Linked DNA regions of Homo sapiens. The protein of the gene in region 1 purifies or fractionates together with the protein of each later gene. This does not show direct contact. Each region holds a gene or a part of one and is shown on either strand. Other genes may lie near its edges. The genes, in order: SCML1 and RMP64.

What was found.
Region 2: the proteins of SCML1 (region 1) and RMP64 purify together in Homo sapiens (affinity purification with mass spectrometry, with the first as the bait; one large-scale study listed by BioGRID). This does not show direct contact.

What each region holds. Positions count from the first base shown.
Region 1 is NC_000023.11:17,747,268-17,751,091, reverse strand, and holds part of SCML1 (sex comb on midleg-like protein 1), read right to left. Parts: intron 1,693-3,824; coding exon 1,588-1,692; intron 1,199-1,587; coding exon 799-1,198; intron 1-798. UniProt on the Homo sapiens protein: Putative Polycomb group (PcG) protein. PcG proteins act by forming multiprotein complexes, which are required to maintain the transcriptionally repressive state of homeotic genes throughout development.
Region 2 is NC_000003.12:113,002,424-113,006,247, reverse strand, and holds the end of RMP64 (nucleolus and neural progenitor protein), read left to right. Parts: intron 1-217; coding exon of another isoform or gene 218-243; coding exon 244-712; 3' UTR 713-3,804; downstream 3,805-3,824. UniProt on the Homo sapiens protein: May play a role in cortex development as part of the Notch signaling pathway. Downstream of Notch may repress the expression of proneural genes and inhibit neuronal differentiation thereby maintaining neural progenitors.

The DNA.
Region 1 (3,824 bases):
CATAGTAATAGAGATTTTGGTCAAAGGTTTATATGTTTAAAAAATAACTGAGATATGAGACAGTTTAACTGCTCATACTTCAGAAAGTTTTAGCTATGCTCTACACTAAGTTGTGTTGAAATTTCTTTGTGTACTGACAAGTATCCTTTTACTCACCCACAGTGTTAGACTCCCTAAAATTAGTGTGTGATGACTAAAGTGGGTTTTGTAATTAGTTAGGAAAATTTGTTTCTCCAACCAGGACCATCAACACAATTTGATCTTTTTGTGTGTGTGAATTAGCCAAAAACATACCCTTTCTTCCCTACCATCTGGGCTCTTGCCATATCAGGAGTGTTTTTTATTTATCTAGGGAAAGGGTAAATAAAAATAGAAGATTTGGAAAAGCACAATGGGGCAGAGTTCTAGAAGTGCTACTCACCAGCTCTGTGATCGTGGGGATGGCGTAATAAATGTGCCAAAACCATGGGGTCATTATGAGTATAAGTGGAGAAGAGGCATGTCAGCTGATTGGTGCAGTGCCTTGCACATAATATGCATTGAATAAATGTTAGTCATCATTCTGAATATCACCTAAAACCAGCCCTCAAAATAGGAAACGAACAGCTTCCACTAGTTTGCATCAAGGATGTTGATAAATATAGGTCAAATAGTGCTACTTGTAAATATGGCATTTCAAACTCACCAAACCAGAAGGGAAGCAGAGAGATGATCCAGTATACCTATTCTCCATCAAAGCTGAGTAACTCATCATCTCAGGGGCATGTACCAAATTGGGCTCTCCCTGGGCCAGCATACCTGAAGGTGGTGCTGCAGAAGCATGGTCAGTTGAGTAAGTGTTGTGGATGCTGTCAGCCCGAGGGTTGCCAAGGCAGAGCCCTGAAGAAGAACCATACGTTGCACCATCAGATGCATAATACGGCTGACAATTATGCTCAGAGAAATCTGAGGGATGCACTGGACTCGGAGTGCGGCTGAGGATCGGGTCCTCCTCCAGCTCAGCTCGCTGGTATTCTTCCATGCAAAAGGATGGCCTTGGAAGGTTGCTCGGGGAATTATTCTCACGCCTTGACACTGGTAAAGTGGGGCTGTAACTTTCAGGGTAGGAGAATGTCTCGTAAACCTCATTTTTCTTCATTTTCTGGAGTTTAAGCTTTTTAACAAGCCGGTAAGAATGCTTTTTATATCCATATCGCTTCTGAAATCACACAAACACAGCATAAACCAACAGTGAGTAAAAAAGTAAATAAAATTAGTAGCAAATACATTAATACTTATTTTCCATGCAACATTGCTTTACATTATTAAAAATAAATGGTCCCTTTTGATTATATAATTCTTCAATCCTACATTTTAATTGTATTTTACACATTATAATTACAAACATAAAAATAGGCAGCATCATAAATTATCAAACCTAAACTTCAGCGTTCTCCCAACAGAGTTTAGTCTCCATCTACTGTTACAAGTATAGACATGCCTTGCTAATCTCACACAGATACTGGTACTCTCTCACTTCTAGCTCATTGGCATCTTTACAAACCAGAGGTTTATCACAGTTGTAAAAATGTTTTTTATAACACTTACATGATTTGTCCACAGGGATCTCGCATGGAAACGTTGGATTTTTGAAACCTTTCTACGAATCACATCAATCTTCTTATCCAGGTTTTGCAGAGCATCATATATAACCTATTATAATACAATGTAGTCATATAATTGGTATACAATGTAAAATATAATTTTTTATTTCAAAGAAAAGTAACGTGAAAATACCATTAAGTCAAATGTTAACTGCTAGACACAACAAAAGTTCTCAAGCCATCAGAAATGTCTTGCTCCTATTCAAGGCCTGGCTGTAGGTGACACAGAGCCAACAGGCTGAGCTAGAGTAGTCCCCTCCCCTGCTCTACTCCATGTAGGAATTGAGGAAGCTCTAATGCTGGTGAATGAATGTCCCACAATGCCTCTATGCTAGCACATTGATGATGAAGACACTGCACATCAAGGAAGGTGCTATTTTAGGAAAGAAATCTGCTAAAAGAACAAAGACTCACTTTATGATATACATATGTAACATATATGTTCATATATGTACAAATATGAAGTCTATATTATATACAGACAGTGAGTGTTCCACTCCAGAAAGAACACTGAACCAAATATAACAGATGTGACTTTTGGCTTCAAAGTATTTTTAAATCACGCAGTCAGCAATTAATCTTACAAAACCGTTAAGTACACATCTCTTACGCGCCAATCGAACACATAGGAGACTGATAAAAGTCTGAGAATTCTTCTTGAAATACACAGAGACTTTGGGCAAAGAAAAATACACTTAAGCAAAGGGCCAGAAACATTGCAATCAAGCACATAGGAGGCTGATAAAAATCTGAGAATTCTTCTTGAAATACACAGAAACTTTGGGCAAAGAAAAATACACTTAAACAAAGGGCCAGAAACATTTCCTCATTCATTCATTCATTCATTCATTCACTCATTCAACTAAACCTTTATTGATGGCCTACCACCTGGCAGAACTACTTTGCTAGGTATTGAGAACATGGACCGAAAAAAAAAGCTCCTGGCCGGGTGCGGTGGCTCATGCCTGTAATCCCAGCACTTTGGGAGGCTAAGGCAGGTGAATCGCTTGAGCTCAGGAGTTGGAGACAAGCCTAGGCAACATGGCGAAACCCCCGTCTCTACCAAAAATACACAAAATCAGCCAAGCGTGGTGGTGCATGCCTGTAGTCCATGCTACTAGGAAGGCTGAGGTGGGAGAATCACCTGAGCCTGGGAAGTTGTGGCTGCAGTGAGCCATGACTGAGCCACTGCACTCCAGCCTGTCCTAGAGGAACTACCATCTCAGCTGGGAGAGAGACAAGTAAAAAGAGGATTCCAGCAGACAAAGTGATAAACAGCCTGGAACAGTGGTTTGCAAAGTGTGGTCCACGGACTGGTAGCATCAACATCACCTGTAAGCTCATCAGAAATGCCAAATGCCAGGTTGTACCCCAGACCTATGGAACCTGGAACTCTGAGAGTGGGGGCAGTGGTCTATGTTTTCACAAGCCCCCCAGGTGATTCTGATGGCCCTAGTGAGAACCACAGGGCTGCGGCACTGAGATAAACAGTGCAGGCTCTTGGGGAACATGGTTGGGGTCAAATACTACAGTCCAGCCACTTATTGGCTGTGTGACCCAGGGCAAGTTACTTAACCTCTCTGTGCTTCAGTGTCCTCATGTAGGGAATCAGGATGAAAAGCTCTCTCAGGGTTCTCTCGAGGACGAGAACCTTGCTATAGTATTAGGTTAATACTAACAGTAACAGCACTACACTACACCCGGTCCAACAGTGCTCAGTGGTCTCTTCATGTTACTATTGTTATTACCAGTGGCGTGACACAGGTGGGAACAGGAGGCTAAGCCTGCACAGAAAAGCAGTCCTAACCCAGGCTGCAGTCACGGAGACCTTTTCAGAGGAGGTGAGGTCTGAAGTGAGAATTAAAACATGAGAAGGCCCTCGCCAGGTGAGGATGCATGGAAGGGCTTACAGCATAGAAGGAACAGCAGGTTCATAAATACCCAGAGAGAAAAACAGGAAGCCAGGTGTGGAGACAGCAAGTATGAATGACATTCCAGGAGTGGGGCTGTCACAGGAAGAAGAGAGTGAGGATGACAGGAAAGGAGGGATGGGAAGCAAGAGAAGTGGCTTCTCCAAGATGTGGGAGAACTCGTAGAGGGGAAGGAGGGACAGGGACTGGAGCCAGAGGAGAGAGAGGGGGATGCCCGATGGGGGGCAGCTCTGAGTTCAGGGAGGGGACT
Region 2 (3,824 bases), on another chromosome or scaffold:
GCTGTACTTTTGAGAGTTTGAAAGCAAAATGGGGACACATTCGTCTACACTTCAATCAGAGGGCATTTGTGCTCTCAAAAAACAGACTTGGGGTGAAATTTTTCGATGTGGTTCTGGGATTGTACACAGGCATAGGACTTGTAGATAAGTTGTGTATTTTTCTTTTCAGTTGGTAAATTAAAAGTGCTTGAGAATGTTTTTCTCATCTTAAGCCCAGATTTTTCCTCTCTCTGTCTTTTAAAGTTTGCCAAAGAAACTAGAGTGCATAAAAACGTCTATTTGCAACCACCTTCTTCGTGGCTCAGGTATCAAAACTTCAAAGCATCATCTGAGACAGAGAAGATCACAGAATAAATTTTTACGGAGACAAAGGAAACCACAGAGAAAGTTGCAGTCGACTCTTTTAAGGGAAATTCAGCAGTTCTCTCAAGGGACTCGGAAGAGTGCTACAGATACCAGTGCTAAGTGGAGACTCTCACACTGTACTGTGCATAGAACTGATCTCTACCCTAACAGTAAGCAGCTCTTGAATAGTGGAGTTTCAATGCCTGTCATACAAACTAAGGAGAAAATGATTCATGAAAATCTTAGAGGCATCCATGAAAATGAAACTGATTCGTGGACGGTGATGCAAATAAATAAAAACAGTACATCAGGAACCATTAAGGAGACAGATGACATTGATGATATTTTTGCTTTAATGGGAGTTTAGATGTTCGTTCATATGTGAGACTTTTAAGTGATTAACAAGGCTAGTTCAGTGTTCTAAGTAGAACTGCTAAGATCTGGAAGTACCACCTGGACTCACAGAGGAGCTGCTTTAGTGCAGCATTGCACAGGAGTTCATTTCAGTTCAGTCTACATTTAAAGTAGCATTGTGTCATTTCATCAACAAGTATTTCTTTTTTGGCTTCAACTACATGTCAGGTGTTAATATGAAAAATCTGCCACAGCCTACCCTTGAGAAGCAGATGTAATTCCTTGAGTGAGGCTAGTAAGTCTCTGAAAAACTGAATAATTTTATGACTTACTAGGCAATTTAATAATCGTTTGCAAAAACCATTGTGTCTTGAGGTAAATGAGGAGCGGGGGTGGGAGATAGCAAGGAAACACCTGAAAGGTCAATTTGGTCTTATTGGCTCCATTATACATAGGTCCGCCTCTGAATACTAAAGTTTGTAGCTCCTGACATTTATGTTTTCTTGTTTATATGTTGGAATTGATCAACAAGGTTTGCCACTGCTTGTATTACCAGGGACTGGTTACAACCATTATTTCTCTTCATTTGCTTGGCTTATCTCATATTAAAGTGAGTTTGGAGTTCTCCAAAACGTTTTAATTTTATTTATTTGGGTACCAGTGATTGATTCCAAATAAACCTTTTTACAAAAAGGCAATAAGGTGGTTTATGGTTACATATGAAATATAATAGGATAACAGGTAGATGAGAAAGTAAAATGAAAAAATGAGGTTAGGAGATACAAAGTAGACCCAGGAATGAGGCTAGAACATTTATAATTTGGTGTTGATGCTGTCATCTGATAGGGGATGTTGCTCGTACTGTTGCTCTGAGGGGAGTACATCTTGAGTATTTTCAAATAATGATGTGAAGTTTGAGGTAGGTATCTTTCCAATGTTCTAACTTTACTAGAATTAGGTTATTAAGCTTCTCTAGTGCCCTTAACTTTTGTTACATAGAGATTTAAAGAAAAAGAAAGTAGTACCTTAGTATGTACCGCATCCTTCTTTTCCTCAGCCACCCTATCATAACAGAAGTTATTTCCCTTCCATTCTTTATTTGGCTTTGTTCTTTCCCTGTCTGCCTTCTCCATTTTCTCAGTTATCTCTACCAGTGGTTCTCAAACTTTAGACTTTTTGAGAATCACCTGGTGGGTTGCTAAAAGATGCAGATTAGCCCTTTCCCAGAGACTGATAAACAGGGGCCAGAAACCTGCATTTTTAACATGGAGCCCAAGTGATTTTGATCCAGGTGGCCCCCAAATCCAGTTATATAAACACTACTTTAGCTTCTCTCCTGAAGCCTTAAGTAAACTGGTTTAATTCTTAATCTGTAGTCAGTTTTCATATTCCTTTTGGCTTTCTACCAAGTGGTAGTATCCATTTAGTGCCTTAAAATACAGACAATACCAAGGAGATTTCATTCTAGACAAGTCTAGAAATGGCCATTAACTTCTAAGTGTCCTTGTGTTCAATGAATATCCTTTACCTATTGGGAAATAGAAGGTAAATTAGTAAGAGAACTGGTGTATAGCTTTGTGGACCATAGGGCTTATTTGCTGAGAGTTGTCTATATTCATGCACCCAGTCCCCTAAGTAGCCTCTTTTAATACTTCATTTAGCTGATTCAGAAAAAAACTCCCTGGGAATTAGGAGATTTAAGGTTCAGTCTTGCTTCTCCTACTTGTGGCTTCACTGAGCTAGTCAGTTTCCTCAGGCTTAGGTTTCTGGATTTGAAGTGGAATTTTTTCAAGAATGAAACTTTTATAGCTGAAATAAACTTTGGAGCTTATCTTTCATTGGAAAAACCAGGGTGGTTCAGTGAGTTAAGGACAATATAGCATGGACTGGGCTGCCAGTCTAGCATTTGTTTCCAAATTCATTCATGTTCTTTTGGAGTATCTTCATCTCCTCTCATTTTCCCATCTTCTGCCCTTTACTATTCTGGGAAAATGGCAAAAAAGCTTCACATGTGTCCACAAAATGACAATTTGTATGTTTATAAGGAATTCAGTATTCTGTATCAGTTACTTTTTCCAAATAAATCCAAATATTTAACATTTAAAAAAATGCAATCTAAAGTATACCAAACTGTAACTTACCTAGTAAATGAGATTAGAAACTATTGTCAGGGTCATCGTAGTGAATTATTATTATTATTATTTTTTGAGACAGAGTCTTGTGCTGTTGCCCAGGCTGGAGCACAGTGGTATGATCTCAGTTCACTGCACCCTCCACCTCCTGGGCTCAAGCTATTCTCCCACCTCAGCCGCCTGAGTAGCTGACACTATAGGCACCACCATGCCCTGGCTAATTTTTTAAAAACTTTGTGTAGAGATAGGGTTTCACCATGTTGCTTAGGCTGGTCTCAAACTCCTGGACTCAAGGGATCCACCCACTTTGGTCTCCCAAAGTGCTGGGATTACCCACATCCTAGTACCAACTTTATCACTTCTGATGGCATTAGGACACACAGGCCATTTATAAGAGCAGTGTTTGAGACCTCCTGTGTGTCACTTCCAATCCTCTTGGCCTTCATACTAAAGTCACTGCTGTGGCAACCAGTTTCAAGCAGGGCTGAACCTTGCCTCTTGCTCTGGGGATGTCTCACTTCCTGCCCCTGGGCTTCTCACCAGCTACAGGAACTGCCTAGCACTTGGGTATGTACAACCTGGAAGAGGTGTGGGGCCACCCCATCCCCTCCTCAAAGAAATTCACAGGCACAGTATGAGGCTAAAGTAACTTCCATCTTGGATGCTAATCTACCATGTTGACTTCTGATAACCAGTTCCTGGAATGCCCTCTAAGATTTCTACTTTTATCTATTAAAAGAACACACACACACACACACACTGTAAATCCTGGCCTTAAGCAAGTTATAGGCTAAGTTGTAAACAGCATTCTTGCCTTTCCCTGAGGAGGTGACTTCAGTGTCTCACATGTTCCTTCATGTACCCCCTTTTCTCTATGGCATATAAGCCCTGGGTCGGGGGGTAACTGTGGGGATCACTGCCTGAGACATGGCTTCTGTGCATAAGTCCCTATTAAATGTTTCTTTCTGACAAACTGGATTTGTTGGCCTCTTT